Linked DNA regions of Homo sapiens: region 2 is linked to region 1. The links come from fine-mapping of genetic effects on gene expression. Tissue or cell type: whole blood. Region 1 holds a variant in brackets; the other region holds the start of a gene. All regions are shown on one strand. Distances are between the middles of the regions.

Evidence for each region. PIP is the estimated chance that this variant, and not a neighbour inherited with it, causes the effect.
Region 2: OSCAR starts here. The variant in region 1 is fine-mapped to the expression of OSCAR in whole blood (INTERVAL, PIP 0.94).

What each region holds. Positions count from the first base shown.
Region 1 is chr19:54,079,166-54,081,921 of GRCh38, reverse strand. It overlaps TARM1 (T cell-interacting, activating receptor on myeloid cells 1), which reads left to right and starts at 557. Exons shown (of 5, transcript NM_001135686.3): 1 at 557-615. The coding sequence starts at 582. The variant CCCTT/T (reference allele first, on the strand shown) is at 1,426.
Region 2 is chr19:54,099,626-54,102,125 of GRCh38, reverse strand. It overlaps OSCAR (osteoclast associated Ig-like receptor), which reads left to right and starts at 1,323. Exons shown (of 5, transcript NM_133169.6): 1 at 1,323-1,370; 2 at 2,346-2,378. The coding sequence starts at 1,334.

The DNA.
Region 1 (2,756 bases):
GAGGCAGGTGGATCACTTGAGGCGAGGAGTTCAAGACTAGCCCAGCTAACTTGTGAAACCTCATCTTAACTAAAAATACAAACATTAGCCGGGCATGGTGGCATGCGCCTATAATCCCAGCTACTTGGGAGGCTGAGGCCGGAGAATTGCTTGAACCCAGGAGGCTGAAGTTGCAATGACCTGAGATCGTGCCACTGGACTCCAGCCCAGGTAACAGAACCAGACACCATCTCAAAAAAAAAAAAAAGAGTGAAGTGCTTTCATCTCTTCAATACGAACCCTTCAGGGCCAAGTCTGAAGCATTTTCGGGGTTACCTGTTTGATGCCTGAAATCTGCCTGAGACAGAGGAGCATTTCCTGTGAGTCAAGTGCTCGAACACTGGTGTGTGTAAGGAGCATGTTGCAATCAGCAACATCAACATGTTTCCTGAATGTGGATATGGGAGGGGAAACTGAAAGGCTAGGAAAGGCTGTTACTGCCCACACTCTGGGGTGGGAGAGAGGCAGCGACGACTCCAGCTCTTCTCCCATCTGTGGACTGCAGAACCCAAGACGGACTCTGGGAGGGCTAAGGAGCCATCATGATCCCTAAGCTGCTTTCCCTCCTCTGTTTCAGTAAGTCTCACAGGGCTATCCACTGGGACTGCAGAAAATCATGGAACTGGTGGGATAGTTGGGCTGGGGATGGAAATAATAACATCAACTTTGGCTTACTGAGCACACGGGAGGAGTGAGACGTCCTGCTGAGTGCACTGCAGACATTCCCTGGAAACGAGTGCTCTGCAAACTTCAACTCCTGTAGTTTCAACTTCGTGAGTTTTGCTGAATGCCTCCACCACCTGGCTTCATTGGCTTACCCCTTTTCTCAGGATCAACTCTGACTTTTTGTGTGTAAGTAAAAGTATTCAGAATAGAAACCTTATTTTATTTTATTTTATTTTATTTTTTTGAGACAGGGTTTTGCTCTTGTTGCCCAGGCTGTAGTGCAATGGCGTGATCTCGGCTCACCACAACCTCTGCCTCCCGGGTTCAAGCGATTCTCCTGCTTCAGCCTCCTGAGTAACTGGATTACAGGGGTGCGCCACCATGCCTGGTTAATTTTTGTATTTTTAGTAGAGACGGTGTTTCACCATGTTGGCCAGGCTGGTCTCGAACTCCCGACCTCAGGTGATCTGCCCACCTCAGTCTCTCAAAGTGCTGGGATTACAGATGTGAGCCACTGTGCCTGGCCCAGAAACCTTAATACCATAAATAAAAATTTAGTGTCAAATAGATAACTATAAAGTAAATTGAGGCCGCTGTGTAACCATCACCACTATCTACACTAAAACCTCTTTCTTTCTTCCTTCCTTCCTTCCTTTCTTTCTTTTTCTCCTTCCCTTCCTTCCTTCCTTCCTTCCTTCCTTCCTTCCTTCCTTCCTTCCT[CCCTT/T]CCTTCCTCTCTCTCTCTTTCTTTTTTTTTTTTTTGAGATGGAGTCTCGCTCTGTCGCCCAGGCTGGAGTGCAGTGGTGCGATCTCTGCTCACTGCAAGCTCCGCCTCCCGGGTTCACGCCATTCTCCTGCCTCAGCCTCCCGAGTAGCTGGGACTACAGGCGCCCGCCACCATGCCCGGCTTTTTTCGTAGGTTTCACTGTGTTAGCCAGGATGGTCTCCATCTCCTGACTTCTTGATCTGCCCGCCTCGGCCTCCCAAAGTGCTGGGATTACAGGCGTGAGCCCCCGCTTGCTTGCCTGCTTGCTTGCTTGCTTGCTTGCTTGCTTGCTTGCTTGCTTGCTTGCTTGCTTTCTTCCTTCCTTCCTTCCTTCCTTCCTTCCTTCCTTCCTTCCTTCCTTTCTTTCTCTTTCTCCTTCATTCCTTCCTTCCTCTCTCTCTTTCCCTTCCTTCCTTCCTTCCTTCCTTCCTTCCCTCCTTTTCCTTTTTTTGAGACAAAGTCTCACTCTGTACCCAGGCTGGAGTGCAGTGGTATGACCACAGCTCACTGCAGCCTCCACCTCCTGGGCTCAAGCAATTCTCCTGCCTCAGCCTCCTGGGTAGCTGAGATTACAGGTGCCCACCACACACCCGGCTGATTTTTTGTACTTTTTAGTAGAGACGGGGTTTCATCATGTTGGCCAGGCTGGTCTTGAGCTCCCTCAGGTGATCACCTCAGGTGATCTGCCCGCCTCAGCCTCAGCCTCCCAAAGTGCTGGGATTACAGGCGTGAGCCACAGTGCCCCGTGTAATTTTTAAATTTTTTGTAGAGACGGGATCTCACTATGTTACTCAGGCTGGTCTCAAACTCCTGGCCTCAAGCAGCCCTTCTGCCTTGGCCTCCCAAAGTGCTGGGATTACAGGCGTGAGCCACTGTGGTGGCTCTGCCACCTTTTTCTCCCATCCTGGCCCTCAGCAGAATACCCACCTCCATTAGGAAGGCCAACCTGCCCGACTCAGCATTAGATTCAAATGCTGATCTTTCTAAAAACACCCTCACAGACACGCCCAGAAATAATGTTTAACCAGATATCCCAGCATCCTGTGGCCTGGTCTAGCTGATAAATCAAATTAACAATCACAATTCCCAATATGAACGCTACACCCTCTAACCAATAACTCTGTATTTGCCGCGGTCCTCCCAGCCCCTGGTAACCTCCATTCTAATTTCTTTTTTTTTTTTTTTTTTCGGAGATGGAGTCTTGCTTCGTCACCCAGGCTGGAGTACAGTGGCCTAATCTCAGCTCACTGCAACCTCCGCCTCCTGGGTTCAAGCGATTCTCCTGCCT
Region 2 (2,500 bases), 20 kb before region 1:
CAGCTACTGGGGAGGCTAAGGCAGGAGAATGGCGTGAACCCGGGAGGCGGAGCTTGCAGTGAGCCGAGATCACACCACTGCACTCCAGCCTGGGCGACAGAGCGAGACTCCGTCTCAAAAAAAAAGAAACTGACCTGGTCTTGGTCTTTCAGTCGGACTGGTAGCTGCTGCTTGAGAGCAGTAACGGAGTCTGAGTTCCCTCTGTGCCTGCCAACATGGCACAGCGAGGGTCTGGCACGTAATAGGTTCTAATTTTTTTTTTTTTCTTCTGAGATTGAGTCTAGCTCTGTCGCCCAGGCTGGAGTGCAATGGCGCGATCTCGGCTCACAGCAACCTCCGACTCCCGAGTTCAAGCGATTCTCCTGCCTCAGCCTCCTGAATAGCTGGGATTACAGGCGCGCGCCTCCACAGCCGGCTAATTTTTCTTTTTTAGGAGAGACGGGGGTTTCTCCATGTTGGTCAGGCTGGTCTCGAACTTCCCGACCTCAGGTGATCCACCCGCCTTGGCCTCCCAAAGTGCTGGGATTACAGGCGTGAACAACCGCGCCCGGCCTAGAGGGGCTAATTTTTATCTATCTATCTATCTAACACAGTATCACACCAAGAGCCTGGCACATAATAGGTGCTAATTTTTCTCTGTCAACCAATCTATCAATCGATCAATTAATCACAGCAAGGGCCTGGCACATAATTGGTGTTAATTTTTATCTATCCATCAATCAATCACAGCAAGGGCCTGGCACTTAACAGGTGCTAATTTTTATCTATCTATCTATCTATCTATCTATCTATCTATCCATCCATCCATCTATCTATCTTTCAATCACAGCAAGGGCCTGGCACATAATAGGTGCAAATTTTTATCTATCTGTCAATCAATGACAGCAAGAGTCTGGCACATAATAGGTTCTTATTTTTAAAACAGACAGATATCTTTCTATCTGTCTATCTATATTTAAAGACATGGTCTCACTCTATCACCCAGGCTGGAGTGCAGTGGCACAATTTATTTATTTATTTTTTAGACAGGGTCTCGCTCTGTTGCCCAGGCTGCTCTTGAACTCTTGGGCTCAAGCGATCCTCCTGCCTCCACCTCCTGACTAGTATTTGTTTCTAGAGTTAAATAAATGAACACCACAGGTTATGACTGAACCCCCTGCTAATTTTTCCACAGTGCCATAGGGCTATGACACAGTCACCCACAGGCCCCCACCTCGATACTCTCTTCCGTAAATGAGGATCTGGGTCTGGTTTTCTGATGTTGCCTCATTTCCTGGGAGGGGAGAGGGTGCGACCAAGCCCTGGCTCCAGCTCTAGCGGGTATCTGCCCACCATGGCCCTGGTGCTGATCCTCCAGCTGCTGACCCTCTGTGAGTCACCCCTTTCTTCTCCCTGGGTTCCTGGCTGGGGTTGGGGGCAGAGAGAGAGGCAATGGAGACCCAGACACCCTGCAGGGGGACCAGGCAGCAGGTTTGGGATTCTAGGTTCAAATAAAGAACAGGGCTGGGGCCCAGACCCCTGGGTCCTAAAGCAAGAGAACACAGATTCCCGAAAGAGGAAGGAGGTGGGGACAGGTATCTCTGGTTCTTGAGGCAGGAAGAGGTCAGGAGACAGGGAGGACTCCCAGATTCTTATATGGGAGGGGGATGGAAGCCAGGACTCCTGATTCCCTGGGAAAAGGGGGCTGGGAACAGGGCTCTTAGCTCCTGAGAGAAGAGGGAAATGGGGACCCAGATTCCTGAACTCGTGAGAGGAGAAACTCTACGATCATTGTTCCCTGGAAAGGTGGAGTTCAAGGGCCTGAACTCTTGGTTGCCCAGGCCAGAGGGGTCTGCGTTCAGACTTCTTCGGTAGGTGGGCAATGGATGTCCAAATTTCTGCCTACTGAGACAGGAGGAGGGAGGGATAAGATTCTCATTTCCCAGAGGAGATAGGAGCTGGGAACTCAGATTCCTGGGTTACCAATGAGATGGGGCTGGCCACAAAGGGTTTTGAAAAGAACTCGCTGTTGGGCGCAGCGGCTCATGCCTGTGGGAGCCGAGGCCCAGCACTTTGGGAGGCCGAGGCGGGTGGATCACCTGAGGACAGGAGTTCAAGACCAGCCTGACCAACATGGCGAAACCCCTCTCTACTAAAAATACAAAGATTAGCCTGGTGTGGTGGCGGGCACTTGTAGTCCCAGCTACTACGGAGGCTGAGGCAGGAGAATCACTTGAACCTGGGAGGCAGAGGTTGCAGTGAGCTGAGATCACACCACTACACTCCAGCCTGGGCGACAGAGTGAGACTCTGCCTCAGACAAAAAAAAAAAAAGGAAAAAGAAACTAGTCCCTCAACCTCCTACAGGGCCTCTGTGTCACACAGACATCACTCCGTCTGGTGAGTAGCCACCCCATCCACTCTCCTTTTGTTGCTGACACCCCTTTTCCAATTACTCAGATTTTATTTTGGTGCCCAATCCCATCCCAGATATCCTTATTTTCCTCCCTCCCTCCATTCCT